2 linked regions of the Homo sapiens genome follow. Changing the gene in region 1 together with any one later gene gives a genetic interaction. Each region holds a gene or a part of one and is shown on either strand. Other genes may lie near its edges.

Region 1 (15,878 bases):
TAATGTCTTTTGGCAACACCCTCACACACACACCCAAGACCAGTACTTTGCATCTTTCAATCCAATCAAGTTGACACTCAGTATTAAGCATCATAATGGTTTTTATTTTGATTATACTTAAGATGCCGTAAACTTCGATATGGTCAACAGCAGTATCTTCCAAACCAGTATCCTTATTTCCATTCCAATCTGAGCAAGACTTGAAAGCCAGAAAAATCTGAAGTGCATCTCCAATCTGTTATTTAGCAGATAATTTTAAACATCTGCTGTGTGCCAGACACCTCTTTAAGTACAGGGGATTTAGTTGTGAACAAGACAGAAGACAGAGTCCTTGCTCTTTAGAGGGAGTTCACAGTCTAGATGAGAAGTCAAACTTTGAACAATAAATTTCAGCTTCAGAGTCTTAATGACATTAAGTTCAGATGCTTTGCAGCCCTTGAATAATAAGTTTCATCTAAAGGACTCATCTCCTGGCCTGCATACCCATTTCAGATGTTGTTAGGGAGAGGCTTCAGAAGAGGCTTTCTAGAGCAGGTGACATTTAAGCCCAAGGCTTGAAAGAATAAGAGTCAGAATAGGGTACAGTATGTACAAGGAAACTCTGAATAGGGTACAGTATGTACAAGGAAACTCTCAGTTGGAAAACTGACATAAATCCCATTAAGGGGGAGAGTGGAAAAAGATGACTGGAGAGAGAAGTTGAGGTCAGATCAGGCAGACTTTCTAGGCCTTCTTAAGGATGTTATAGCAAGACAGTGGGAATCCATTGAAAGGTGGTCTTACAGGATCACTATAAGGGGATAGAGGGGATGCACATACTACCCTAGGATCTGATATTCATATTATAACCAATCTGGGACAGTGCCCCTGGAGTTGTGCAGTGCCAGAATAATCTGGAGTACAGCCATCTGTACTCCCACTGGAACATGGAGGAGTAGACTAAACAGGACTTTGCATGTATATGGTGAAGATCAGTGGAATAAAAAATGGTACCTGGCTGGGCACTGTGGCTTACACTTGTAATCCTAGCACTTTGGAAGGCTGAGGCGGGAGGATCACTTGAGGCCAGGAGCACAAGACCAGCCTGGGCAATATAGCAAGACCCCATCTCTAAAAACGAAAAAAAAATAGCCAGCCATGGTGGCCTGAGCCTGCGGTCCCCAGCTACTCAGGAGGCTGGGACAGGAATATCACTTGAGCCCAAGAGGTTGAGACTTCAGTGAGCTATGGTCACACCACTGCACTTCAGCCTGGGCAGGTCAAAGAACAGAGGTGCTGTTCTCCGATATAAGTGAGCTGGGAGGCAGATGTGTGTAGAGGGGTTGGGGGAGGGTAGGAGAAGGTGATAATAATCAATTTTGAACTCATTTGAGATTCTTTTGGAACATTAGAGAAGTGGTTTTGTAGATAAGTAGAGAGGTTTCAACTAGGGATATGGTTGGGATTCCTAGGTTTATAGATGTGGTTAACTACTGGAAATGGACATGATACACCACAGAGGACAGAATGAAAAGATGGTTCAGTACAGAAATCTGAGGGGCTCCTGATATTTAGTAATAGTTGAATAGAAGAGATGGAGCTTAGGCTTAGAAAACTGTTGGTTCAAGCCTTCAAGATCCTCTACAAAATGTTTCCAGCCACATTTGTTACCCAAGTCATAGTGGATTCATCTCCTTGCCTTTGTACCCATTTCACATGTTGCTGTCATAAGGAGACTCTTTCCTTATTTCTTAGATAAAATATAAATCTTTTTTTTTTTTTTTTTTTTTTTGAGACTGAGTCTCACTCTGTTGCCAGGCTGGAGTGCAGTGGTGCGATCTCAGCTGACTGCACTCTCCGCCTCCCAGGTTCAAGCGATTCTCCTGCCTCAGCCTCCCGAGTAGCTGGGATTACAGGCACGCGCCACGACGCCCAGCTGATTTTTGTATTTTTAGTAGAGATGGGGTTTCACCATGTTGGCCAGGATGGTCTCGATCTCTTGACTTCGTGATCCACCTACCTTGGTCTCCCAAAGTGCTGGATTACAGGTGTGAGCCACCACGCCTGGCCAGAAATCCTTACTCAAGGCTTTGTGATATTCACACTAAATTGTATTCTGATTATTTGTATGTTTGGCTTATTCTCTATAAAGATTAAGGATGCTCAGTTAGTATTGATGGATTAAGTATATTTTGATAGAAATGGCTGTGATTTTTAAATATAGCCAAATTTCTGTTCTTACCTGGTACCAGCAATAAATGTGTTGAATAAATTAATCAACAATAGAAAATGCAGATAAGGAAAAAGAAAAAAATATTAAAATCACTTGAAGTTCTAACACATCTTTTCATATGATAGTTTCTCAATCTACTTGTAATGTTTTTGTTTTTGTAATAATTGTGTGGGGGTTTTTACATTTTATTTTTGTTCATGTTTCTGTGGGTTATTTTTGGAGGGGAGGGCACATTTTAAAGATATCGCAGTTCAGAAGTTCTGTTGTGAAGCACTTTAGTTTAAAAATCTGTATACTTTGTGTGCATGTCCCCATGAGCTTGGAGGCATTGCTGACTGGCATCCCTAGGCTCAGTGATTGTCTGTAGTTGTACATTTATTTACAACTACATAATGTACATTTATTTGTATGATTGTGCTTCAGACTGATCTTTGGAGCTAAATTTAGGGAAGCTTTTGGAGAGGTGACTTAGGAAGGCAGGGGCAGTCGGCAGTTCAGGGCTCCTTTACTCTGCATTCCTCAGAGCACTTCTGCATTTCGCTGTTTTCAATGTAGAGATTCTGTTAGAACTTCCTTTTACAAATGTTTTTCCTTTTGAAAATTGTTATGCTGCTGGTATATGACATGTATCTTTAAATCAGATTTCATAGTGTAATATAGATCAGCAATGACGTTTTCTTGTATCTTATCAATTAGGGATTATGGGGTTCATGGGATCTGTCTTTCTTTTGTAAGCTTTTTAAAGATGACATCAGGTATCTGTTGACAATGGACAAACTATGGCGGAAAAGGAAACCTCCAGTTCCGTTGGACTGGGCTGAAGTACAAAGTCAAGGTAAAGAATACATTTTAGTCTTGGAACACCTAAGCTGGAAATATCCTCGCGTAAAGTCTTTGTATAGCCCTGTTGTTGCTTGAAAATGATATGTCTTCATATATTCAAACAGTGCAAAAAAATATGAAGAACAAAAGTCACTGAAGTCCCACACTTCAGAAATAGCCACTAATAACATTTTCAGGAGTGTTCTGGTGGTCCGCCCTATGTACACAGATGCAGGCATTCGTTATACACTGCGTAAATGGAATCATACTATTGATAAACTCTCACTTGCTTTTGTCAGTCAGTATAGTTAACTAGTCTCTTATTAACATGTAGTGTTTTTGTATTTTCCCTGAAATAAAGTTTTGAAATTGCTATATATTTATGTATATCTTTTTTTTTTTTTTTTTTTTTTTTGAGACCGTGTCTCGCTCTGTTGCCAAGGCTGGAGCGCAGTGGCACGATCTCAGCTCACCGCAACCTGGGTTCAAGCGATTCTCCCGCCTCAGCCTCCCGAGTAGCTGGGATAACAGGTGTGAGCCACTGCGCCTAGCCTATTTATGTACACCTTTGTACCCTTGTGATTATCTCTTTAAGATTTAATCTAGAAACACATTTTTAATGTAAAATTTTTTTAATGTTTAGAAATGAAAAGTTTTTTGAGGCATAGTCTTGCTATGTTGCCCAGATTAGAGTGCAGTGGCTGTTCACAGGCTGTCATAGCACAAGGCATCCCTGGACTCCTGGGCTCAAGCCATCCTCCTCCCTCAGTCTCCTGAGTAGCTGGGACTGTATGCAACTGTGCCCAGCATATTTTAAAATTTTAAATGTAGGAAAACTATTGTAGTGGCTGCTTTCTCATCCCACTCCCCTTTAACACTCCTTGTCTCTCCTTTATCTGAACTGTATTAGGATTAATTTATGCACAGCAGTATAGCACCCATTGAAACTTAAAAGATCCCGGGAGACTTGGGATATCATTTTGGAGCAGTTCTCAACAATCAGGGATAGTTATCAAACAGATTTAATTATGACTCTAGTAGTGTCCGCTTACTGAGTTCTCATTCTCACTAGGTGCTGGGCCTAATGCTTATTTATCATCTTATCTACATTATATCTTCAAATCTCCCAGTAATCCTATGAGGTACTGAGGTGGTCTTGTACCTTTCCTATCTCAGGTTTAACAGTTTTTTTTTTTTTTTTTTTTTTTTTTTTTGAGACAGAGTCTTGCTCTGTCGCCCAGGCTGGAGTGCAGTGGCGCGATCTTGGCTCACTGCAAGCTCCGCCTCCCGGGTTCGCGCCATTCTCCTGCCTCAGCCTCCTGAGTAGCTGGGACTACAGGCGCCCGCCACCATGCCTGCATATTTTTTGTATTTTTAGTAGAGACGGGGTTTCACCATGTTAGCCAGGATGGTCTCGATCTCCTGACCTCATGATCCGTCTGCCTCGGCCTCCCAAAGTGCTGGGATTACAGGCGTGAGCCACCGTGCCTGGCCCCATGATAATTATTTTAATGGAATTTATTTCATATTTGATTTCTTAATGGTCGGGGATTGAACTTGTTAAACAGAGCACAGTAGAGGAATGATGTTAATTAGTGAAATTTCTAATATATATATTTTTTTCTTTAGGAGAAGAAACGAATGCATCAGATCAACAGAATGAACCCCAGTTAGGCCTGAAAGACCAGCAGGTTCTAGATGTAAAGAGCTATGCACGTCTTTTTTCAAAGAGCATCGAGACTTTGAGAGTTCATTTAGCAGAAAAGGGGGATGGAGCTGAGCTCATATGGGATAAGGTTCGTTTTGACAATGTGTGGCAAGTACTTACATGTCAAAAGTGTGTTTTAGTTCTTGAGATGTAATAGAAGCTAGTCATTTTTTGAATATTTACTAGATTTTGAGGAAATATATTGATTTGGCTTGGATATTTTCAGCTCTAATTGCTGTATGGAGCTGAATTTTCTGTACATGAATTCAAGCAATATCATAAAACTTCATTTGGGATTCTAGTGATGTGTTCAGGGTTTATAATTATGTTGACTAGAAAAATAACGTGAATATATTAAAGTGAAATGTTTCTTGTGTAGAGTAGATGTATTCATAGAAGTCATAAAATCATTTGGAGAAAACATCTCATTGGCCTGATTTGCCCTTGAAAATAGTAAGATTGTCTTTGAATTGAAATAGTTATTACTATTTCAGAGGTCTGAAAGACAGAGCTCTTGATACAAAAATGAGATGTAATTATTCTTAGAAGTTAAAATCATATTTAATAGTACTCTGCAGTTATGTCATCTTTTGAGATTTGATATTATGAACTAATTTTACTTAATTTTAATTGTAATCAGTATTTTCTATGGCTAAAAGTGTTTTATCTCATGAAGCTTGTATGTTCCTGTGGTGTTGAAGATTAGTCATGGGTCTTAAGGCATAAAGGCCAATTTTAGAAACCTAAGAAAAATTTGTGTGTACATATTTTGAAACTTTGGTTGAATCAGACATCTAAATACACTAAAATGAAGCTAGTATATTTAGATTCTTGGGATTCTTATAAACATTAGTCTCTTGGGTTTTGTGATATTTAAAGGGTAACTTTTCATATTTTCATTGTTATTGTTATGCTAGTGATTTGGGAAGTTTGATTAGTGCACAGAGGCTAAATAAAGAGCCCTTGGAATGGGAATTGTTATCCTCTTGAGTAAAGTCCACATGTAATGGGTGTGATAAGACAGCTGCTTAGGGAAGACACTGTGTTGAGTATTCAGTATTCTTAGTCCTCACCACACCTTATGAGATGGGGATATAATTTCCCCTATTTAATAGATTAAGAGATTTTGACTCAAGGAATTTGACTTGCCTGAGGATTCACAGCCAGCCAATAAATACATAAAGAACTATGCTCTCAGTATTTTTTCTTCTGTTCTGTGATGCCTCTGAATTTTAGACCAGGGTGATATCTTCTCAGTTCAAAGCAGGAAGCCTTGCTGAAATCTAGAGACTAGGATATAGTCTCAGGAAAAATACAAATCGTAACAGGAAAAACTTGGATTGTATTGCCTTATTTGAAGAAACAGCATATGTGAGAGAGTGGTGCATATGAAGAGAGTTTGGCAAAGGGGAGTGAAAAAGAGTCATCCAGGTTTTTCTGAAGTGTTAATGAAACAGCTTTTTTTTTTTTTTTTTTTTAATTGAGACAGGGTCTCACTCTGTCACCAAGGCTGGAGTGCAGTGGCATGATCTTGGCTTACTGCAGCCTCTGCGTCCCGGGTTCAAGTGATCCCGCCACCTCAGGCTCCCGAGTACCTGGGACGACTTTAGGTGTGCGCCACCATGCCTGGCTAATTTTTTGTGTTTTTGGTGGAGATGGGGTTTTGCCACGTTGCCCGGGCTGGTCACAAACTCCTGAGCTCAGGCAATCTGCTTGCCTCAACCTACTAAATTGCTTGAGACTACAGGCATGAGCCACCATGCCCAGCCTAAAACAGTTTTCTTAAATTGCTCGTCTTTTGGCCTGGATTCTGTGTTTGTCCAGCAACCTTCTCTTTACTGATGAATGGAACCAGGAAAGGGTTGCCATTGTCAGTGAGTGGAATTGAGATTCCGGTGTATACAACTGAGTCTCCGGTGCCTTTGTTTAGGCTGGAGTGAGTTCCTAGAAGCTGGTGATTCTTGGTGTTCTTGTCAGACTCATTACTGGACCAGAGGAGCTGATGATGAGACCCCACCCCCTACTTAACCCACCTCCATGCTACTGTGAGGTCCTAGCTGACTGGTCTTTCCCTCAGCAACCTCTTGTTCTAGTCGAAAGTCTATAGTATTATAAACACGTGAAAGTATTGTTCTGAAAGTAATGCTTCAAAATAGTCAATTTGTGGAGAAACTTGTTAAATTGTTTAAATTATTGGCAGGATGACCCATCTGCAATGGATTTTGTCACCTCTGCTGCAAACCTCAGGATGCATATTTTCAGTATGAATATGAAGAGTAGATTTGATATCAAATGTAAGTTATTTGTACTAAAGTTGTATCACTAAAACCTTGAAGTTGTTTTTTAAACAGTGAAACATACTCATCCTTTTTTTTTTTTCCCAGCAATGGCAGGGAACATTATTCCTGCTATTGCTACTACTAATGCAGTAATTGCTGGGTTGATAGTATTGGAAGGATTGAAGATTTTATCAGGAAAAATAGACCAGTGCAGAACAGTGAGTATTTCTGTTTGCATTTTTATGCAACCCCCCTTAAAAAAATCATTAATTAAAAGTACATTAAACAGATAATTTTTAAAATGAAAACAATAAAATTGGTTTAAAGCAATGGAAAAGTAATTTTTCTGGTTACCAAGTGAGTGTGTGTTTAAGCTTCCTGGAAATTGCAACAAAAAGGAAAAATTAAGAAGTTGCTTTTGCTTTTAACATTTCCAATTTTACTGAATTCTTCGAAGAATTCATTGTGCGGTCCTTATACTAAGAAGATGTTTCAACTGTTTTTCAATTCTGAGAGTGCTATATGGGTTTTAAAATTTGCTTGGTCATTTTATAGTCCCCTGTTCAGTCATTCTCCTATTGAGTCATTCTTTTCAATTTTATTGTATAGTTTTTGATAATGTTAATGTCTGAGATCTTTATGGGTGAGTCTGCTGTCATTTCTGCTATTTCTCGTAGTGATTTGCTTGTATGGTTTATGATTTTTTAAAAACTGAATGTGTATTAGAATTGTGTCTGGTAATTCTTTAGGGACCCATTGTAGATGTATTTCTTCAAAGAGCATTTGTGGTTATTATATTTGGGTGCTTGGGGCACTGCCAATACAGGACCACTTTTAAATTAGGATTTTCAATACCTATGTATTCAGACCACAAACCTGCACGTGCCCTATGTTATTGTCATGAATTATATGGGAAGATACTCCTCCCCCTCCACTAAGCACCAAGTTTAAGATCATTTTTATGGAGAAAGTATTTTTCTCCTCTCTTTTCAGGTCCTTGCTTTGTGTAAGGGTCTCCTGTTTTAAGAGTTCCTACCTTAGTGGTGGGTGGGGTAGGTGTATCTCTTAAGGCTAACACTACTTGGATGTTCTCTTTGGATTCCTTCCTTCGATGTTGTGTCTGCAGACACTTCGCTTTCTTACCAGCTCAAGAAGGCTTCCTAGGAAATACTAGCCAATACTTTGACTGTTGTTTAGGTTCTCCTTTTTATCATTGAAATAAAAAGACCTGTTTACCTTCAGAAATTTCAAAAAATATCTAGTTTGCAATGGTACTGTTATTTTGCAGTGTCATTGATGCACACTTACTTTTTTTTATCTTTTGAGACGGAGTCTAGCTCTGTTGCCCAGGCTGGAGTGCAGTGGCACAATCTTGGCTCACTGCAACCTCCACCTCCCAGGATCAAGCGATTCTCCTGTCTCAGCCTCCTCAGTAGCTAGGATTACAGGTGCATGCCACCATGCCGGCTAATTTTTGTATTTTTAGTAGAGACGGGTTTCACTATGTTGGTTAGGCTGGTCTCGAACTCCTGACCTCATGATCCGCCCACCTCGGCCTCCCAAAGTGCTGGGATTACAGGCATACAGGCATGAGCCACTGCGCCCGGCCTTTTTTTTTTAAACTGATGGGGTCTTGCTATGTTGTCCGGGTTGGTCCTGAACTCCTGGGCTCAAGCAGTCCTCCCACCTTGGCCCCCCAAAGTGCTGGGATTACAGGTGTGAGCCACTGCACTTGGCCCGATGCGCTCTTTTTTTCCTTTTCTTTTTCTTTTTTTTTTTTTTTTTTGAGGTGGAATCTTGCTCTCACCCAGGCTGGAGTACAGTGGAGTACAGTGATGTGATCTCGGCTCACTGCAACCTCCACCTGCTGGGTTCTAGCGATTCTCCTGCCTCAGCCTCTCAAGTAGCTGGGATTACTGGCACATGCCACCACACCTGGCTAATTTTTGTATTATTAGTAGAGACGGTGTTTCACCTGTTGCCCAGATTGGTCTCAAACTCCTGGCCTGAAGTGATCCGCCCTTCTCAGCCTCCCAGAGTACTGGGATTTCAGGCGTGAGCTATTGCGCCCAGCCTCGATGCACTCTTAAAATATTTTATTTTCATGAAATTTCAGTTTGAAGGAACAGAATCAAATTGCCCAGTCTGCCATCTTGATTTAGTTTTCTATTTAAACTTTTATTGTATATGTTATATTTTTAATTTCTAAGAACTTTATTTTTTGGTATCTTTTTTTTGAGATGGAGTCTTGCTCTGTCACCCAGGCTAGAGTGCAGTGGCGCGATCTCAGCTCACTGCAACCTCCACCTCCCAAGTAGAAGTGATTCTCCTGCCTCAGCCTCCCCAGTAGCTGGGATTACAGGCGGGTGCCACCACGCCTGGCTAATTTTTGTAGTTTTAGGAGAGACAGGGTTTTACCATGTTAGCCAGGCTGGTCATGAACTCCTGACCTCAGGTGATCTGCCCACCTTGGCCTCCCAAAGTGCTAGAATTACAGGAGTGAGCCACCGTTCCTGGCCGATACCCAGTTTTTAAATTATTTAAAAAAAATTTTTTATAGCAGCCTGAAGCTGTAGTATCCCTTTGAGCTCACCAACAGTACTAATTACTGAACTTATTAAAATGTCTGTTATTTCCCATCACATCCTTCCGGTTTCTTTGCCTGCTTAGCTCCATGCCACTCTTGGACTATTAATAGTAATATATCTGGCCGGGCACGATGGCTCACACGTGTAATCCCAGCTCTTTGGGAGGCCGAGGCAGGCAGATCACCTGAGATTGGAAGTTCGAGACTAGCCTGACTAACGTGGAGAAACCTGGTCTCTACTAAAAAAAAAAAAAATATATATATATATATATATATATATATATATATAAAATTAGCTGGGCATGGTGGTGCATGTTTGTAATCCCAGCTACTCAGGAGGCTGAGGCAGGAGAATCACTTGAACCTGGGAGGCGGAAGTTGCATTAAGCCGAGATCGCGCCATTGCACTCCAGCCTGGCAACAAGAGCGAAACTCTGCCTCAAGAAAAAATATAGTAATATATCTGGATTTCATTTTTTTACATTTGCAAATGAATTCCAGCCTGGATTAATGTTAGCCCAGGTATTAATAGTGGTAGCAATTGCTTTTATTATTGTCAGTTTCCCTTAGCACACTTACCTTCCCGGTGAAGCCCAAAATCAAACAAATCTTTCTCCCTCTGTAGCCTGCTTGGCCTGGGCAGTTTGCTTCTAGCCCTTCCACCTACCAGTATTCATTGTACGGAGAAGCTATTTTACAGAGGACGGCTTTAGTGTCTCTTGAGGGATTTAGTTCTGTATTCTCAGGGGAATCCGTAGAGTACTCCTTTAGAATTCATTCCTCTTAGCAGACTCAACACTACATTGTAGTCACAAGATAAAGGTTTGTGTCTCAGCTTCTTGTCTTCTGACATTTGTTGTTTCTGTTGGATCTTGCTAGTGTTTTCTAAACTTTAGTAGAAGCAGGAGCTTGGAGCTTTTCTTAATTTCAGTGTAATTTGTATATTTGCCTTGGTTCTTAATTATTTTTTTGTTTAGTATTAGAGAAATGGTAAATAGGTACATATACTGCCAGAAATACATTTTTTTCCCTCATTATATAAATGTTATTCTAATCAGAAAATTTGGGAAGGCAGTGATGTTGATTCTAGACAACTGTGAAAGGCACTATCGTTAACTGGAGAAATTAATGTGTTGGTCTTGTCAGGAGATTGCTTGCTTGATAAGAATAGCCTCAGGGAGGGACACCAGCTGCTGATACAATGATGGCACCACAGATTAACATGCCTGTGCCCTTACTCTTGCCAAATCAGGTTGCAGAAGAACGCGGAGTCTTATATAATACAAGGAGATGTCTTTTCAGCAAGCCTAGCTAGCCTAGCCTTTAGCTGATTAGAAAAGAAGGTTGAGGCCGGGCGCGGTGGCTCACGCCTGTAATCCCAGCACTTTGGGAGGCCGAGGCGGGCGGATCACGAGGTCAGGAGATCGAGACCATCCTGGCTAACACGGTGAAACCCCGTCTCTACTAAAAAAAAAATACAAAAAATTAGCCGGGCGAGGTGGCGGGCGCCTGTAGTCCCAGCTACTCGGGAGGCTGAGGCAGGAGAATGGCGTGAACCCCAGGGGGCGGAGCCTGCAGTGAGCCGAGATTGCGCCACTGCACTCCAGCCTGGGCGACAGCAAGACTCCGTCTCAAAAAAAAAAAAAAAAAAAAAAAAAAAAAAAAAAGAAGGTTGAAAAACCAGGTTCCTAAAAAGGTCATGATTTTCCTGATCCATTTTGCCATCTGGACGGGAATTTTTAAGTCATTTTTTATTGGATATCTGGTAAACGAGATTTTAGATTGTATGGCGTATAAAATTACAGCACGTTTCCGATTTCTGCCTGTTATTTCTCCTCCAAAGATTTTTTTGAATAAACAACCAAACCCAAGAAAGAAGCTTCTTGTGCCTTGTGCACTGGATCCTCCCAACCCCAATTGTTATGTATGTGCCAGCAAGCCAGAGGTGACTGTGCGGCTGAATGTCCATAAAGTGACTGTTCTCACCTTACAAGACAAGGTCAGTGCAAGGCCTGGGTCTCTTTTCCTTTTGCTTTTACAGTATTACTGTGATGACAAACAAACACTAGCTGCTGATTCTGAAAAGGTCCAACTGCAGAGATGTGTGGCTGTGATTTCCTGGGTTATTTTGCCTTCTGGATTCCTGCAGGCTTTTCTGTCTGTGGTTCCAGAATAAGTGCCTCACATTCCCAGAATGGAGTAGGAGTATTTGACTGGAATCTGCAGCACAGTGGTGGCACAGTATCACAGCAAGCAGAGGACTTCTTTGCTCTTTGCTTCCCAGGCAGTGGGTAAATTCTGTATTTTTTGACAAATAACAGGTATCCTTGAATGGTCCTCACTGTGGCAGTGAGCAGATAAGTATTTGCATGCAGTGCAAAGTTTGCATTTCCAGTAGAGCAAAGCCCCAGTTACCAGCTTTGTATTAAAGGGTATAAGTAACTTGCAGAGTTTTGGTTTCTCTGCGTGTTGGACAGTGCCCACTCCCAGCAAATTAGGGGGCTTTTGTTATTTCTGAGGTCTGAGTTGAGGCTAAGTGGTGGTACACACTTATCTAATATGACCTGATTCTGATATGGTAAGTTAGTCCCTGAGGACATAGGGCATTTGCACACCTGGATTCACCTCTGGAGCTGAAGCGAGGGAAGAAATGGGGGTTTAGGACATGGTCTGGTCCTTAAGTTCCTGTTAAATTGGCTAGATTTGTGTATTAGGGGAGATTTTCTTTTTTTATGACCCAAAAGTGTCACTTTCCACTTTGGGATCACTTCCTATTGTTCTCTGGTTGTGACCATCATAATGCTACATATTTACATGCCTCTTGAGAGAGGAGGAAGTGGCCCTTCTCAAATAGCAGTGCTGCCTGATAGGGAATGGCCTTTCTTCCAGAAACTGGTTAGGCAGGACGGATTGATTTGAGCTTATGTTTTGGTCAAGGAAGTGGCAGGTACAGCAGCGGGTGGTTGCCCCAGTTTCTTTTCTAGGAAATAATTATCTTTGGTATCTCCTGATTCTTGAGCTTCAAGGTTATTCCTCTATTTGTAGGATTCTTAGACCTATAGAGAGTTCCTCCTTTTTTCCTTCTTTCTTTTTTAGGAGCTGGTAGGATTTAACAGAATATTATCACTTCTCTAAATGCATGGAACGGGGAGACTTATCTGAGAGTCAGGTTAATGAGAACTGATTCCATCTATGAAACCCCTGCCATTACAGGGTTGGCACAGAGACTGAAATGAAATATGTCAAGTGTGTAGCTCACTACCTAACCTGCAGGGAAAGACAAAGTAGCAAGAGCCAGCCAGGGAGTTCCTAGTCCCCTGTTGAGATGAAGTTGGATCTGATCTGCATCAGTGGTCAGATGTGGGGATGGAACTCAGGTGAATCCCCACGGCTTTCCTGCTTGCTCTAAGGGATCTTGAAGAGTGACTTCGCCGGTTTCCAATAAATAGAAGGGGAAAGTAAGAGCCTTTATAGAAGTCTAGGATTTCTTATGATCTTTAATTACCTACGTTAATATTTTGAATCCTTTTTTTTTTTTTTGTAGATAGTGAAAGAAAAATTTGCTATGGTAGCACCAGATGTCCAAATTGAAGATGGGAAAGGAACAATCCTAATATCTTCCGAAGAGGGAGAGACGGAAGGTATCATACATTGTATTTATTCATTCCTCTCATTGAGGAGACTGCTTGAAGAGTGCACATTAGTTGATTCATTTACTGTATGTGATACTCAGTATTGCAGAGAGTGGCAGTGTTTGGTCATGAAGGTGCTCTTTCAAGGTGACATTGCTGGGGGTCATCACACTTCCATGTTTGGGAACTCCATGTCAGACATTTTCAGGGACTGCAGTGCTCTTGTCCACTTCCAAGGAACCTCCTTGCCGATATCATGGATCCTGGGAGCTAACCTTGTGATGAGAAGACTATTCTGTCTGTCAGATCACAGTGGGTAGGGTTCTAAGGCATTTGGAGATTTTTCTCCAAGAGTGGGGAAGCCTTGGTAGCCTGTTCCTACTATATAGCAGAAAGATTATTGAAATTCAGTGCCCGGTTTTGGCTTTCTGATCTTTCCTTTCAAAAGTTCAAGCAGTTCATCCCTTTTGCTAACACATTTGCTATACAAGGTACAATACATTTGATTCTGTTGAAGCTTTCATAGTAAGGATTGCATCGTAGTTATTCCTCCTTCAGACTGTACTCGTTGATCCTATACCTCCTTGGTCACTTTTGCAGCTCATTTCTTGAGTTGCTGTTCTCGTTTTTTCCATGTCCCAGTTTTTGCCAGTGTACTGTTATTTTCGAAGGTTTCTAGGCCCTGTGTTTCCCTGTATATTGACTTAATTCATACCTATTTGTCCATTGGTCATTTATTCATACTTTGTGAGGTCCTGATGGCGATTCAGATGTTAAGCCTTCTTTAAATTCAGGTTTAGTGTCAAGGTTCTTCTTGGTTGTAGTTGCTTGTTGAGAAATTTTTTGGGCTATTAGGTCATGTGTAATTGGAGGCCATGTTTTGGCTGTGTGGTGCTCTATTTTAGGAGTCTACTTGAGTATTCAAGCCTCATTCTAGCCAGCTGACTTTTAAAAAAATGTTTGTTTGTGATTATATGCTGTCCCTTAGTTGTAGCCAGCTCTTTCAAATGCTAGCTTAAAAATGGAAACTGGTCAGGAATTTCAGTGGCTTCAGCGTGACCCTTCTGTACGGAATACATGTGGTATGGAGGGTGAGACAGCACTTACCAGAATATGTGTGGAGTCCTGTATGACAGGCATAGTTTTGGGTATTCATAAGTCAAGGATGAATAAGACAACAGACCTTGGCTTGAAGTGCCTTGCAGCCTGGAAGAAGGGAGATTGTCAACAGCTGGATTGAGCATCGTCCAAGGAAAACTAGAAAGAGTGTGTACACAGTATGAATCTAAGGAAAGTATATTCAGCTTTGTGAAACGGAGGGGGAGTAATAGGAGAGGGAGTACTCTTGGGTCAGTTTTTGAAGTAGTAGTGAGGACTCCCTGGACAAAGAAGAGAGCATTTAGACAGAATGAACATCTGTCTACAAAGGTGTGAACTTGTGAAACAACCTAAACTGCCTTGGGAGTGGCCCATTATTTGGTTTCGCTGGAAGTTGGGGTGCTGAGGGGTTGGCAGCAGTGGTGAGGTTGAAGTCTTTCTTGTCACATGTGCAGTGTGTGTCTTCCTCCTCTCCCTTGACCCCTACCCTCCAGAGGAAGGGGCAGTATTTCACTGCCACCTGCCACCAGGGTTTAAACAGGGGAGTAGCAGGGAGCTATTAGGGAGGAGGGGATTGAGGGATTTTTACTAAGGCAGAGGCAGGTGATAGATTTGAGATTTGCAAAGTCAGAACTTGGAGCCCAGTTGAGGAATAGCATTACAATGTTAGCAGCGTTGTTAGGCGAGCACAAGACTTCACAGGTGATGCTAGTTCACCAAAATGTGAACCCACATTAACTGGTTTTCCTTTTGAATGTGATGGTTCCAAGAGGTTTGCAGTCAGTGGAGATGTGTGAAAGGGCTTGGAGGTGGAAATCTGGGTAAGAATGCCAAGGGCATTCCTGGTAGATTAAAATGGTAAAGCAAGCAACAGATCTGGAAAAGAACTAGGAGAAACTGTTAGTATTTTCTGGGTGTCAACGTAGGGAAAGGCGTTCTAAGCGTTTTCCTTATAAATAATGAAAAAATGTTAAAAAGCCAAAAAAAAAGTGGGGGGAGACTGAAAATTGAGATTATATAGAAAATTGGGCTTGGTGCACTGGCTCACACCTCTAATCCTAGCACTTTGAGGGGCCGAGGCGGGCAGATCACTTGAGGCCAGGAGTTTGAGACCAGCCTGGCCAACATGGCAAAACCTCATCTCTTGTAAAAATACAAAAATTAGGCCGGGCGTTGTAGCTGTAATGCCAGCACTTTGGGAGGCCGAGGTGGGTGGATCACCTGAGGTCAGGAGTTGGAGACCAGCTTGGCCAATATGGCAAAACCCTGTCTCTACTAAAAATACAAAAATTAGCCAGGCATGGTGGAGGGGGTGCATTTAATCCCAGCTATTCGGGAGGCTAAGGCAGGAGAATCGCCTGAACCTGGGAGGTGGAGGTTGCAGTGAGCCAAGATGGTGCCACTGCACTCCAGCCTGGACAACAGAGTGAGACTCTGTCTCAAAAAAAAAAAAAAGAAAGAAAATTAGTTAGGCATGGTGGTGCACACCTGTAGTCCCAGCTATTCTGGAGGCTGAGGTAGGAAGACTGCTCAAGTCTGG
Region 2 (15,878 bases), on another chromosome or scaffold:
CGTCTTTAATCCATCTGGAATTTTTGTGTCTGTGGTGGAAGTTAGAGGTCTAATTTTACTATATGGTTGGCCAATTGTCCCTTCTCACCCCATCCATTTTCTACTGATTTTTAATGCCATCCCTATAATATACTCGAGTTCTCATATAAGTTTGTTTTTCTTTTCTCTGTTACATTGATCTCTGTGTACTTCCTGGGTCACTGACATATCTGGTAAACTATGCCCCACCCCTCCTTCCCCGCCCCCATCAGCTTTATTCTTCTTCAGCATTGTCTTGGCATTTTGGGGCCTCCTGTTCTTCCATATGATTTTGGAATAAGCCTGGAGACAACTTTTAATGGAATTGCATTAAAATGATAGATTATACATTTATAGGTTAATTCAGGTGCAGTTGCCATCTTCTCATCCTTGAACATGAAATATTTCTCTATTTACATCTTTTTTATCTTTCAATAAAATTACATATTTTTCCTCCTAAAAGCCTTGTACATTGTTTGTTGGATTTATTCCACAGTATCTTATAGATTACTTGTGACCGTTAATGGTATTTTAAAACTATATTTTCTTCAGCCTGGGCAACATAGCGAGACCCCAAAAAATACAGTGCTCTACAAAAAAACAAAATTACCTGGGTGGTACCTGTCTGTAGTCCCAGCTACTGAGAGGCTGAAGAGGGAGGCTCACTTTAGCCCAGGAGGTTGAGACTGCAGTGAGCTGTGATCATGCCACTGCACACCAGCCTGGGTAACAGAATGAGACCCTTTCTCAAACAGTAGAAAATAAGCCAGGCATGGTGGCTCACGCCTGTAATCCCAGCACTTTGGGAGGCCCTAGGCAAGAGGATCACTTGAGTCCAGGAGTTCAAGACCAGCATGGGCAGCATAGTGAGACCTCGTCTGTACAAAAAAATTTTAAAAATTAGACCGGCATGGTGTTGCACGCCTGTAGTCCCAGCTACTTGGGAGGCTGAGGCAGGAGAATGGTTTGAGCCTAGGAGGCTGACGCTGCGGTGAGCCATGATTGCGCCACCGCACTCCACCCTAGGCAACAGAGTGAGACCCTGTCTCAAGAAAATAAATAAAAATAAAATTGTACTTTCTAATTATATGTAGCTAATGTACAGGTATGCTTATTTTTATAAATAAGTTTTTTATCTAGCATTTTTTCTGAACTCTTTTATCTATTTGTTATCTTGTGTTTTCTACAAAGACAACCATATAATCTGCAAATTATGGCAGTTTCTTCCTTTTAAATCCTTATAACTTTTCCTTATTGCCCAAATTAGAACCATAATACAGTGTTGACTAGAAGGTGTGATAGGTACAACATTAGGATGCTCACTGGTTTTTTTTGTTGTTGTTGTTTGTTTTTTTTGAGATGGAGTCTTACCCTGTCGCCTAGGCTGGAGTGCAGTGGCGCGATCTCGGCTCACTGCAAGCTCCGCCCCTGGGTTCACACCATTCTCCTGCCTCAGCCTCTTGAGTAGCTGGGACTACAGGTGCGTGCCACCACACCCGGCTAATTTTTTGGTTTTTTGTTTTTTTGAGACGGAGTCTCGCTCTCTTGCCCAAGCTGGAGTGCAGTGGTGCTATCTCGCTCACTGCAAGCTCTGTGTCCCGGGTTCACGCCATTCTCCTGCCTCAGCCTCCCAAGTAGCTGGGACTACAGGCACTCGCCACCATGCCTGGCTAATTTTTTTGTCTTTTTAGTGGAGATGGGGTTTCACTGTGTTAGCCAGGATGTTCTCAATTTCCTGACGTTGTGATCCGTCCGCCTTGGCCTCCCAGAGTGCTGGGATTACAGGCGTGAGCCACCACACCCAGCTGGATGCCCACTGATTTTTAAAGAGAATGCTTCTGGCCAGTCACAGTGGCTCACACCTGAAATCCCAGCACTTTATGATACTGAGGCTGGCAGATCACCTGAGGTCAGGAGTTCAAGACCAGCCTGGCCTACATGTTGAAACCCTGTCTTTACTAAAAAATACACAAATTAGCCAGGCATGGTGGTGGGCACCTGTAATCCCAGCTACTCAGGAGCCTGAGGCAGGGAGAATTGCTTGAACCCAGGGGGCGGAGGTTGCAGTGAGCGGAGATCATGCCACTGCACTGCAGCCTGGGCAACAGAGCGAGACTCCATCTCAAAAAAAATAAATAAATAAATAAATAGAATGTTTCTATTGTTTTATCATTAAGTATAAAGTCTGCTGTATCTATTATTTTTTAAAAATGTGACTTTAAAAAATAGTAGGCTAGGAGAGATGGCTCACACCTGTAATCCTAGCACTTTGGGAGACTGAGGCTGGAGGATCACTTGAGGCCAGGAGTCCAAGGCCAGCTTGGGCAACATAGCAAGACCCTTTCTCTACCTTTTAAAAAATAACAAACAAAAATAAAATTTTAAAAAGTAAAAATAGTATATTGCTTCCCTCCCATTGTTCATCTATCTATCTATGTACATTTTTTTTTGGAATTTTGTTTTGTTTTGTTTTGTTTTTAAAGACAGAGTCTTACTGTGTTGCCCAGGCTGGAGTGCAGTAGCACGATCTCAGCTCACTGCAACCTCCACCTTCCAGGTTCAAGTTATTCTCCTGCCTCAGCCACCTGAGTAGCTTGGATTAAAAAGTCTGTGCCACCATGTCTGGCTAATTTTTGTATTTTTAGTAGAGACGGAGTTTTGCCATGTTGGGCAGGCTGGTCTCGAACTCCTAGCCTCAACTGATCTGCCCACCTTGGCTTTCCAAAGTGCTGGGATTACAAGCATGAGCCACTGTGCCCAGCTATATATATTTTTGTGTTTGACACAGGGTCTCACTCTATCACTCAGGCTAAAGTGAGTGCCTTGGTGTGGTCATGGCTTGCCGCAGCCTCAACCTCCTGGGCTCCAGTGATTCTCCCACCTCAGCCTCCCATGTAGCTTGGGACCACAGGCATATACCACTATGTCCGGGTAATTTTTTTTGTTTTTAGTAGAGATGAGGTCTAAACCCAGGCTGGTCTCGAACTCCTGGGTTTAAGCAATCCTCCTGCCTCAACCTTCCAAAATGCTGCGATTATAGGCATGAGCCACTGCACCTGGCCCCCTCATTAATTTTCTAAGGTCAAACTATCCTTCTAGTCTTGGGCTAAATTCTAATAAGTTGTGTTGGTCTAGGGGTTTTTTTTTTTTGTTTCTTTTTTTTTTTTTGGTAGTTTTTATATTGCTGGGATAAATTTGCTCTTACGTTATTTAGTATTTTTGTATTTGTGTTTGTAAGTGAAATCCACCTAAAGTTTTCCTTTGAACTGTCCAATTTGGTTATCAAGGTTATACTCATAAAATAAGTTGGTTAGTTTTCACTGTCTTTGTTCACTAGAATTGTTTGTATTTGTAGGCTGGGTGCTGTGGCTCACGCCTGTAATCCCAGCACTTTGGGAGGCTGAGGTGGGCGGATCATGAGGTCAGGAGATCGAGACCATCATGGCTAATACGGTGAAACCCCATCTCTACTAAAAATACAAAAAATTAGCTGGGCATGGTGGCATGCGTCTGTAGTCCCAGCTACTCAGGAAGCTGAGGCAGAAGAATCACTTGAACCCGGGAGGCGGAGGTTGCAGTGAGCCGAGACCACGCCACTGCACTCCAGCCTGGGCGACAGAGCGAGACTCCGTCTCAAAAAAAAAAAAAAAAAAAGAATTGTATTTGTAAGAGATTACATACTCTTGCATGTTTGATAACACATAAGGTAAAGGAAAAGAAGGTAGAAATAGGTAAGATTAGAATATTGAGTCATGTGGCAGTATGTTATAAAGGCTGCCATGGAAATTCCAGAGGGAACTACAAGAATGCCTGAGCAGTTTTATGTTCCTGCAGAAATTACCCTTACTATGTGCTGGGCACTGTTACAAATAATTTGTTTAAGGGTATAGTTGAGGTGGGATACCATGAATTTGTGATGGATGCAGTCTGCCTTTTTGGGGGGGGACTTTTTTCTACTGTTTCACTGCCTACCTTCCTCTACTTCATTGTACTCAAGGTAAGCCTCATTATCATCAGTGTTGGCTTTCACAAGGATGCAGTCTCATGACTTGGCCTTTGTAGGAAAACACCATTAGAAGAGTAGATGGTTGGGTAGTGGCTCTCTTCTTCTTCTGCTTAGACTCTTGTCTACTATGAATAAAGGGCTCTATTTGCAAAGGCCGTGATGGGTTGAAGCACATTGAGAAAGAGGCTACTGAAACATAAGTTACCTTTCTCGCCCAGGTGAGATTTCAATGGAAAAAGTGAAGGTAAAGCGTTATGTGTCCGGAAAAAGGCCAGACTATGCCCCTATGGAGTCCTCAGATGAGGAGGATGAAGAATTTCAGTTCATTAAGAAAGCCAAAGAACAAGAAGCAGAGCCTGAGGAACAGGAGGAGGATTCATCCAGTGACCCCCGGCTACGGCGTTTACAGAACCGTATTAGTGAAGATGTGGAAGAGAGGTAATGTCTGTGATTGTGTTTACTTGAACATGAACCTCTACAGCTTAATAATAATAATAATAGCTAATACTTGAATAGTACTACCAAGTAGATTACATTTGCTAATTCTTGTAATCCATACAATAACTTTATGAAATAGGTGCTATTATCCCCATTTCACAAAAGGAGGAAACTAAGAGCACAAAGGGGCTAAGAAAGTTACATGACCAAAGCTACAAAGTGGCAGCTTCAGGAAACAGCAGGTTACTTCTGGCCTAAAGGACCTACTCAACTCCTTATGGGAATAGAAAACACAGACCATTTGTTGGCTGTTGAGAGGAGTCTTTTTAGCACAAAGATGTTTTATAAACTTTGGTAAATTGATTTTATACATCTACTTATTCTAAATGCTAATAAGGGGAAATGACACTGAAGTAGGAGAAAAGACCTTATAAAGGTCTCATGGTAGAAAGAGAGCCTCCCAGTGAGGGATTTTGTATGTTATATATTGATGGAGACATTACTTTATAGAGTAGGCCAGGAGTCCTGAACTTTCACCGTTCATAATTGTCCCAGGAGTTTTTTCACAGAGCTCCTGGGCCAAAACAGTTCTGTTTATTTTAGTTATTAAGTAGTTAGAGCCAAGTAACTTAATAAGTATTTATGTCCTAATAACTTTGCCACTTGAAGATTAACAGTGCCCATGGCCAGGTGCGGTGGCTCACGCCTGTAATCCTAGCACTTTGGGAGGCTGAGGCGGGTGGATCACGAGGTCAGGAGTTCAAGACCAGCCTGGCCAACTTGGTAAAACCCCATCTCTACTAAAAATACAAAAAAATTAGCCAGGCCTGGTGGCGGGCACCTGTAATCCCAGCTACTTGGGAGGCTGAGGCAGAGAATTGCTTGAACCTGGCAGGCAGAGATTGCAGTGAGCCGAGATCACGCCACTGCACTCCAGCCTGGGTGACAAAGCGAGACTCCATCTCAAAAAAAAAAAAAGAAAAGAAAAAAGAAAAAAAAATAAAATTACAGTGCCCAGGGGGGAAAAAACACTTTTATTCATTCTCACATAACCATAGTTACTAGTGGAATTTGTTTGCCTGTTGGACACTGACAGCCTTTCAAACCTTGGAATCAGCACTGTCACTTTTTCATGTCTTGTTTTATATTGATTTTCATACTATACTTTCTTTTACTTTTTATCACAGCAGCCACCAAAACCCAGTTTCACAAAGACACGATATTCTCGAAAGGAATGTAGTGTGACTTAATGTTGAAAGTGAATTATCTTGAGCTATTAAAAATATTCCAATGCAGGCCAGGCTCAGTGACTCATGCCTGTAATCCCAGCACTTTGGGAGGCCTAGGCAGGCGGATCACCTGAGGTCAGGAGTTCAAGACTAGCCTGGCCAATATGGCGAAACTCCATCTCTACTAAAAATAAAAAAATTAGCTGGGTGTGGTGGTGCATGCCTGTAATCCCAGCTACTCGGGAGGCTGAGGCAGGGATTATCACTTGAACCTGGGAGGTGGAGGTTGTGGTGAGCCAAGATCATGCCCTTGCACTTCAGCCTGGGTGACAGAGTGAGATTCTGTCTCAAAAAAAAAAAAATCCCAATGCATCCCTATGAGTTTGCTGGCTTGCTGTGGTGCCCCAGGATGCCTCAACATACATTTAGTATTTCAGGCCCAACTTGACTATTCGCTCTGACATCCTAGTTTAGTTTCTTTAATCTGCACCTCAGTTTCCTCCACCTCAATACTTTAATACTGGATGGACATGGTGGCTCACACCTATAATCCCAGCACTTTGAGAGGCTGAGGTGGGCAGATTGCCTAAGTCCAGGAGTTCAAGACCAGCCTGGGCAACATGGTAAAACCCCGTCTCTACAAAAAATACAAATATTAGCCAGGTGTGGTGGCACGCCTATAGTCCCAGCTACTCAGGAGGCTGAGGTGGGAGGATCACTTGAGTCTGGGAGGCAGAGGTGGCAGTGAGCCAAGATCGCACCACTGCACTGCAGCCTGGGCGACAGAGCAAGACCCTGCCTCAAAAAAAAAAAAACTTCAGTATTAATGAAGGCAAACATAATGTGCTCTGTGGCTATGGAAATGCAGTTGATGCTACTTCATTTTTATGACATTGGTGTTACATTTGGAGATACTGTTTTTCAGATTGGCTCGACATCGAAAAATAGTGGAACCTGAAGTGGTAGGAGAGAGTGACTCAGAAGTAGAAGGAGATGCTTGGCGCATGGAACGAGAAGACAGCAGTGAAGAAGAGGAGGAGGAAATTGATGATGAGGTATGATAAAGGAACATGGGAAGTTTTTTTCTGGATATAAGAAAAAGTTCATGCCAGTGCTCATTTGTTGAAGCCTTAAAAACATGAGATCACTGCTTTGGCAGGACTCTGATCATGTTCCTTGTTTGTGGGGATAGGATTAAAAATAGAATGATACTAAGTTGTATCTTTTTACATTTGAATTTGTTGTGTTTGATGAGACGAACAAAAAGCCATAGGCCATTTGACTGACTGGCTTATATATATGACTTGATAGGAAATAGAGCGGCGGCGTGGCATGATGCGTCAGCGAGCACAGGAGAGAAAAAATGAAGAGATGGAAGTCATGGAAGTGGAAGATGAGGGTCGTTCTGGAGAGGAGTCAGAATCAGAGTCTGAGTATGAAGAGTACACAGACAGTGAAGATGAGATGGAGCCTCGCCTTAAGCCAGTCTTCATTCGAAAGTAAGTATCTCACAAGCCAGATCTGAATCCACTTAATTACCACTTTCCAGGCCTGGAGACAAAAGTCTGTTTTCTGTCTTGCTATTCTGAAATCTAAACGCTGAGTGAAAGTGCTTTTGCTAGTGCTCTACCCTTGGCAGACTAGCTGCTGAGGAATATCTTGGCGTTAGCAGAGAACCTGAGTTTGTTTTCACATCTCTTTTTTCAGTAATAGAGCATATATCTGTCCAAGGCCTTTTTTTGTTTGTTTGAGACAGAGTTTCGCTCTTGTTGCCCAGGCTGGAGTGCAATGGCATGATCTCGGCTCACCACAACCTCCACCTCCTGGTTTCAAGCAGTTCTGCCTCTGTCTCCCGAGTAGCTGGGATTACAGGCATGCGCCACCACGCCTGGCTAATTTTGTATTTTTAGTAGAGAGGGGGTTTTTCCATGTTGGTCAGGCTGGTCTCGAACTCCCAACCTCAGGTGATCCGTCCTCCTCAGCCTCCCAAAGTGCTAGGATTACAGGCATGAGCCACGGCACCAAGCCAAGGCCATATATTTTTAAGCACAAAATTAAACTCAACGAGCAAATTCCTATTCCTTTCCTGATGGCTAGAAATCCTACTGCTTAGAGGCCAGCAGGTTCTTTGCTGTCTAGGCAGTTCTCAAAGATGAACATGATTTTAGTCCTCTAAAGACCTGGGATGATGGCTGGGCACGGTGGCTCACGACTGTAATCCCAGCACTTTGGGAGGCTGAGGTAGGTGGATCAGGAGGTCAGGAGTTCAAGACCAGCCTAGCCAAGATGGTGAAACCCCATCTCTACTAAAAATACAAAGAAATTAATCAGGTGTGGTGGCAGACTCTTGTAATCCCAGCTACTCAGGAGGCTGAGGCAGAGAATTGCTTGAACCCAGGAGGCGGAGGTTGCAGTGAGCCAAGATCACACCACTGCACTGCAGCCTAGGCGACAAGTGAGACTCCGTCTCAAAAAAAAAAAAAAAAAAAAAGACCTGGGATGACTCAGCGTTTTTTGCTCTTTGAAAATAATAGAGCCAAAGATTGTTTGGTTTTTGTCTGATTTGGATGGGACTAGGTCTAGGGGAACAAAGCACTCCACTCTAAGGACTTTGGGCAATTAACAGGATCTCTGTGATGCAGGAAGGACCGAGTGACAGTTCAAGAACGTGAAGCCGAAGCATTGAAACAGAAGGAGCTGGAGCAGGAAGCAAAACGCATGGCTGAGGAAAGGCGCAAGTACACACTCAAGGTACTGGGGAGTGGTTGCAAGGAATGAGTACAAGAAATAGTGTAATCAGGTTTGTCTGAGGAGAGTAAGGAAGTCCAAGCTGAATTGTTCTCCCTATCCAGATTGTCGAAGAGGAAACCAAAAAAGAGCTGGAAGAGAACAAGCGATCCCTGGCTGCATTGGATGCACTCAATACTGATGATGAAAATGATGAGGAGGAATATGAGGCATGGAAAGTTCGAGAGCTAAAAAGAATCAAGAGGGACAGAGAAGATCGAGAAGCGTGAGTAAAAAGATGAGCCTAGAGTTAATGCTGCTAATGGAACAGGTTTCTAGCAGGATAGCTCTGAGACTCATTACCTACTGTGAGTTCCATTCTAGCCACCTTCAGAGTTCTTGTTGCTTTGTGAGTTTCCTATAATTGGAATATGAGTTTCACTTGCTACAGTGAAATCAGGGAAGAGAAAAACACTTTGTCGATGTGTGTCCATAATAGAGTGCCAGCCAGTGCTCCCTTTAGTTTCCTAGTAGACACAAAAATTAGTAACTGTTAGTAGTTATCTCTTCTTGTGTACAACCCAACCCACAATTGAGTGACTTGAAACTATAATTTATTACTTTTCACAACTTTGGAGGTTGGCTGAACAGTTCCTCTACTGATTTCACCTGGGCTTACTTATGTAGTTGCATCCAGCTGGAAGGTTGACTGGGCTGGAAACTTAAAAGGGCTTCACTCACATGTTAGTAGTAGGTGGTGGCTATCAGTTAGGATACCTCACTTATCCTTCACTGGATTAGACTGGCTTCCTTACATAGCAGTCTCAGGGCACCATTCTAAGAGGGCAAGGTCTTCTGACATGTCGGTTCCAGAACTCATACATCGATCTTGCCACATACTGGTCAAAGCAAGTCACAAGGCCAACCTAGCTTTAAGCAGGTGGAGAAACAGACTCCACCTCTGCAGAGGAGGAGCAGCAAAGTCATACTTTTTGAAAAGGGGCATACATACTGTGAGGGGAAGAATTTGTGGCACTTAAATAATCTACACTGTGTTAGAGCAGAATCTTTTTTTTTTTTTTTTGACATGAAGTTTCACTTTTCACCCAGGCTGCAGTGAAGTGTCACAATCTCAGCTCACTGCAGCCTCCGCCTGCCAGGTTCAAGTGATTTTCCTGCCTCAGCCTCCCAAGTAGCTGGGATTACAGGCATGCGCCACCATGCCTGGCTAATTTTCGTATTTTTAGTACAGACAGGGTTTCACCATGTTGGTCAGGCTGGTCTCGAACTCATGATCTCAGGTTGTCCACCCAACTCGGCCTCCCAAAGTGCTGGGATTATGGCATGAGCCATCATGCCCGGCCCCAGCAGAATCATTTCTGAGCTGCATCACTCATTCCTGTAAATTACTAGGTATGAGAGGGTAATCCCAGATTACAAAGGAAACCATCAATAGATAACTCTAGGCTGGGCGTGATGGCTCACACCCATAATCCCAGCACTTTGGGTGGCTGAGGCAGGCGAATCACTTCAGGCTGAGAGTTCAAGACCAGCTTGGCCAACATGGTGAAAACCTATCTCTACTAAAATACAAAAATTAGCTGGGTGTGGTGGTGTGTGCCTGTTATTCCCAGCTACTCGGGAGGCGGAGGCAAGAGAATCGCTTGAACCCGGCAGGCAGAGGTTGCGGTGAGCTGAGATCGTGCCACTGCACTCCAGCCTAGGTGACAGAGTGAGACTCTATCTGGAAAAAAAAAAAAAAGAAAAAAAGAAAACTTGCCTGAGTATGAGCTACACACAGTAGATAACTCCATACTCAGCCTGTAATTTTTTGTTTTTGGTTTTTTTTTTTTTTTTGAGACACAGTCTCACTCTGTCGCCCAGGCTGGAGTGCAGTGGCGCAATCTTGGCTCACTACAACCTCCACCCCCTGGGAGTCAAGCGGTTCTCCTGCCTCAGCCTCCTGCGTAGCTGGGACTACAGGTATATGCCACCACGCCCAGCTAATTTTTGTATTTTTAGTAGAGGTGGGTTTTCACCATGTCGGCCAGGCTGGCCTTGAACTCCTGACTTCAGGTGATCCACCCACCTCGGCCTCCCAAAGTGCTGGGATTACAGGCATGAGCCACCACGCCTGGCCCTCAGCCTGTAGTTTCTAAGATTTTTATCCTGGACCTGTAGGAGTAGGAGTCTAAGTGCCCTTTAAAATTGTACACAAGGCCGGGCGTGGTGGCTCACGCCTGTAATCCCAACAATTTGGGAGGCCGAGGTGGGCGGCTCACAAGGTCAGGAGTTTGACACCCGCCTGTCCAACATGGTGAAACCCTGTCTGTACTAAAAATACAAAAATTAGTCGGGCATGGTGGCACACACCTGTAATCCCAGCTACTCAGGAGGCTGAAGCAGGAGAATAGCTTGAACCTGGGAGGCAGAGGTTGCAGTGAGCCAAGATCATGCCACTGCACTCCAGCCTGGGCAACAGAGCAAGATTCCATCTCAAAAAAATATAAAATTGTACACAAAATTGTGTGTATGTATGCATTTTATTTGGAGACAAGGGATATCACTCCCTCTCCCCAACACTGGCTAAAAAGTTACTGCAATCTGGCTGGGCGCAGTGGCTCACGCCTATAATCCCAACACTTTGGAAGGCCAAGGCGGGCGGATCACGAGGTCAGGAGATTGAGACCATCCTGGCTAACACGGTGAAACCCCGTCTCTACTAAAAATTCAAAAAGATTAGCTGGGCATGGTGGCGGGCACCTGTAGTCCCAGCTAATCGGGAGGCTGAGGCAGGAGAATGGCATGAACCCAGGAGGCGGAGCTTGCAGTGAGCCAAGATCACACCACTGCACTCCAGCCTGGGCGACAGAGCAAGACTCCATCTCACCAAAAAGAAAAAAAAAAAAAAAAGTTACTGCAATCTAATTAATGATGGTAATCTTTGGTTTATGACATGCAAGCACCTATATGATTATGATACACTTACATAAAGGAATACCAGCAAAGCCTCAGACACTTATTTTAAATTCACTGATTTTTTTTTTTTTTTAAAGCTAAGAAGACCTTTTAGGGAAAGAGAATTTGTAATGTTGGAAAACCCAGCAGTAATAGTATGTCTGAACGTCAGAAGGGCTAGAATCAACTTTTGAAAGTTGGCAATACCTAGTCTAGCAAACATAATGAAGACTAACTCACCCATTTGTTTATTGAGCTCCTTATCTTGATTCCTAATAGGCAATGACTAGAATTAAAGAAGGTGACTAATACTTGAAATGACATGGGACTGTTATTTTCAGATAATTTGGTCTTTCTGAAGCTGTAACAGTACCAATAAATTGTTTTGCTCCCTGGACAGGCTTGAGAAGGAGAAAGCAGAAATTGAACGCATGCGAAACCTGACTGAGGAAGAGAGGAGAGCTGAACTTCGGGCAAACGGCAAAGTCATTACCAACAAAGCTGTTAAGGGCAAATACAAGTTCTTACAGAAGTATTATCACCGGGGTGCCTTCTTCATGGTAAGAAGTGAAAAGAGAGTCAGAAAATTGGGCAGTAGGAATAACTCAGAAACTTTGAATTATTTTTCTCTTCAAGAATATTCTGGAATGTAATTTCCACTTGCCAGTGGTCAGCTTTCTCATTTGCTTTTTCCTTCTGAACAATATAAACTCAGAGAAAAGCATCAGCAATTGGATGACAGAAGTAGCATCAACTGTTCTCTCTTTTGGCCCCAACTCTCAAAAATAGGAAATGATGTAATAGACTTTTTTTTTTTTTTTAAGAGACAGAGTCTCGCTGTCACCCAGGCTGGGGTACGGTGGTGCGATTATAGTTCACTGCAACCTTGACGTCCTGCGCTTTACACCTGCTTCAGCCTCCAGAGTAGCTGGGACTACAGGCATGCAACAACCATGCCTGGCTTTTTTTTTTTTTTTGGTTATTTTTTTTTTAATTTTTCGTAAAGACCAGGTTTCACTATGTTGCCCAGGCTGGTGTTGACCTTCTGGCCTCAAGCAATCCTCCCACCTCAGCCTCCCAAAGTATTAGGAATACAGGCATGAGCCATCATCCCCAGCCTTAGATAAATTGAGGAAATGAAATAGAGAAGTGATCTGTACAGATAGTGGACTAATTAGGTCCTCCACATGACATAGTTGTCATTCTTTCATAGCTGAATGAGAAGTTTTGGTTATGTGAAAACCAAACTCTGCAAATAGCTTTACATTAATTCACTTTTGGGTGGCAGAAAGTTAGTTCACTTCATTCTGAACTGACAGTACCCAAGAGTAACTAACCAAAAAAAATGGTTTATTATCTAACCATTAGATGGAATGCCGTCATCTTTGTTTTTCATATAAAGACTAAGATCAAAATAGCAATCTGTTAACCCTGTATGGTTTATTTCCTAATGTTAAAGCAGTTTGCACCAAAAACTAGACTAGCTTTTTCAAGTGCCGTGTGGCAAATTCTAAATATCCCCACTGCAACTAAATTCCTGCCTTTCACTGCAGATGCTGTTAAAACTTCAGTGGCGGCTTCCCTGCCACCCTCCAAAATCAGTTTCAGGTCTATCTGATTAGCAGGAAGTGTTTACTTAGGTAGTTTTCCAGCAGATGTAGCTTACTATTCAGTGGAGATTATGAACTACTTCTTGTACTGCTTCGGTCATAAAGTTTGTTTGCTTAAGCAGTTCGCAGCTTTAATAATCAAGTTTCTTAGAGAAGCAGTTCATTGCTAGTTAAGATACATAAGAAAAGTGTATGTGAAAGTCCTTTGGTGGGCCAGGTACATTGGCTAATGCCTGTAATCTTAACATTTTGGGAGGCAAGGCCAGCAGATCAGTTGAGCCCAGGAGTTCAGCCCGGGCAACATGGCAAAACCCCATCTCTACAAAAAATACAAAAATTAGGCGTGGTGGTCCGTGCCTGTAGTGTCACCTATCAAGGGGCTGAGGTGGAAGGATTGCTTCAGCCCGAGAGGTTGAGGCTGCAGTCAGCCGTGATCGTGCCACTGCACTGCAGCCTGGGTGGCTGACCAAGACTTTGTCTCAAAATAAATTGTTTTTAAAAAGTCTTTCTTAAACAAGATAGTGCTATTTTTAATTCCTTCAGCATATGTGTTTATAAATATGTATCACAGCATTGTAATATTATCACTCAGGCTAGAGTGCAGTGGTGCAGTCATGGCTCACTGCTGCCTCATTCTCCTGGGCTCAAGCAGTCCTCCTGCCTCAGCCTCCTGAGTAATTGGGACTACAGGTGTGTGCCACCACACCTAATTTCTATTTTGTAGAGATGGGTTTTGCTATGTAGCCCAGGCTGGTCTCAAACTCCTGGGCTCAAACTCTCCTTCCACCTTGGCCTCCCAAAGTGCTGGGATTACAGGCAAGAGCAACTGCATCCAGCCTTACTAATGTTGTTTATTTCATTGAGTAAGTAAGCTTTAGTGCATATACTATGCAAAGGTCACTGTTTAGCACTGTTAGCGAGAATACATAATCACTATAACATAAGTAAAAGTAAAGTACTGTAGGGGTTCTGACGAGAGAGATGTTATATTTGGTAGAAGATTGAAAGGGTTGACGTAAAGGTTGTAACATTTAAGCATTTAAGATGTATAATTTTGGGCCGGGCGCGGTGGCTCACGCCTGTAATCCCAGCACTTTGGGAGGCCAAGGCAGGCGGATCATGAGGTCAGGAGATTGAGACCATCCTGGCTAACATGGTGAAAACCCATCTCTACTAAAAATACAAAAAATTAGCTAGGCGTGGTGGCGGGCGCCTGTAGTCACAGCTACTTGGGAGGCTGAGGCAGGAGAATGGCGTGAACCTGGGAGGCGGAACTTGCAGTGAGCCGAGATCACGCCACTGCACTCTAGCCTGGGCGACAGAGTGAGACTGTATCAAAAAAAAAAAAATTAAATATATAATTTTTTTTTTTGTCACCTAGGCTTGAGTGCAGTGGTGCGATCTTGGCTCACTGCAACCTCCGCCTCCCGGGTTCAAGCAATTCTCCTGCCCCAGTCCCCCAAGTAGCTGGGAATACAGGCGTGTACCACCACGCCCAACTAGTTTTTGTATTTTTAGTAGAGACGGGGTTTCTCCATGTTGGCCAGGCTGGTCTTGAACTCCTGACCTTAGGCGATGTGCCCACCTCAGTATCCCAAAGTGCTGGGATTACAGGCGTGAGCTACTATGCCCGGCCAAGATGTATAGACTTTTTGACATTCGGTGCTGGGAAGACATTCCAGGTGGAGACCAGCAGGAGTGGAGGCAGAAAGCATCAGCTGTGAAGGGAAGCGGCAAAGAGAACTGAAAAGGTGGATTAAGGCTGTATAATATTTGGCCTTGATTACTACACAGAGGAGTTGTATTCATTTATTTATTTATTTATTTATTTTTGAGATGGAATCTCGCTCTGTCACCCAGGCTGGAGTGCAGTGGTGCGATCTCAGCTCACTGCAACCTCCACCTCCTGAGTTCAAGTGATTCTCCTGCCTTGGCCTCCTGTGTAGCTGAGATTACAGGTGCGCGCCACCAGGCCTAGTGTTTTTTGTATTTTTAGTAGAGACAGAGTTTCACCATGTTGGTCAGGTGGGTCTTGAACTCGTGACCTCGTGATCCGCCCGCCTTGGCCTCCCAAAGTGCTGGGATTACGGGCGTGAGCCACTGCGCCCAGCCTAGGTGTTGTATTCATTTAATAGACAACCATTGAAGTTTTTGAGCAAGGCAAAGATTATAATGAGTTACAGTCTAGAAACATCAGTGCCATGACAGTATGTGAGACTGATAGTAGAGGAAAACTAATAACCCAGGTGGTAAGAGTTTGTAAGATGTGGCAACTGATTGAATGCACACAGAGGTTACTCAGTTTTGAATCTAGGTAATCGAAGAGTACGCTGGTCCTACTAACAGAAAAGTTAAAGAGAAGAGGTTGATATGGAAAGGTTAGGTATTAATAAATGGTTTTCACTTTAGACGTGCATTTCAAGTCCCAATAAAATATCCAACTTATGATATATGAAAGCCAGTAAAAAATCCAGGATTGCAGATTTGAGAGGCCTATGCAGAGTTGAAGTCACATGAGTAAACAAACACATTGAGTGCAGAGAATAAGCCAACCTTCAAGACACGTCTACACTCAAGGAGAAAATTAGGCATAGTTGCATGCACCTGTAGTCCCAGCCACTCAGGAGGCTGAGGTGAGAGCATCGTTTGATCCTGGGAGGTCAAGGCTTCAGTGAGCAGTAGTGACCCCACTGCACTCCAGCCTGGACATCAGGACATCAGAATGAGACGCTGTCTCAGGGAAAAAAAAAAAAAAAAAGGAGAAATACAACAAAGGAAAAAGAATATCATCTCGGCCGGGCGCAGTGGTTCACACCTGTAATCCCAGCACTTTGGGAGGCCAAGGTGGGCAGATCGCAAGGTCGGGATATCGAGACCATCTGGGCTAACACG

What was found.
Region 2: of UBA2 (region 1) and MFAP1, a change in one rescues a mutant of the other (synthetic rescue), as found in Homo sapiens cells (one study listed by BioGRID).

The regions. Positions count from the first base shown.
Region 1 is NC_000019.10:34,447,318-34,463,195, forward strand, and holds part of UBA2 (SUMO-activating enzyme subunit 2), read left to right. Parts: intron 1-2,947; coding exon 2,948-3,047; intron 3,048-4,663; coding exon 4,664-4,830; intron 4,831-6,942; coding exon 6,943-7,036; intron 7,037-7,126; coding exon 7,127-7,239; intron 7,240-11,451; coding exon 11,452-11,607; intron 11,608-13,152; coding exon 13,153-13,249; intron 13,250-15,878. UniProt on the Homo sapiens protein: The heterodimer acts as an E1 ligase for SUMO1, SUMO2, SUMO3, and probably SUMO4. It mediates ATP-dependent activation of SUMO proteins followed by formation of a thioester bond between a SUMO protein and a conserved active site cysteine residue on UBA2/SAE2.
Region 2 is NC_000015.10:43,805,813-43,821,690, reverse strand, and holds part of MFAP1 (microfibrillar-associated protein 1), read left to right. Parts: intron 1-4,242; coding exon 4,243-4,462; intron 4,463-6,616; coding exon 6,617-6,746; intron 6,747-7,002; coding exon 7,003-7,190; intron 7,191-8,333; coding exon 8,334-8,442; intron 8,443-8,543; coding exon 8,544-8,704; intron 8,705-11,776; coding exon 11,777-11,936; intron 11,937-15,878. UniProt on the Homo sapiens protein: Involved in pre-mRNA splicing as a component of the spliceosome.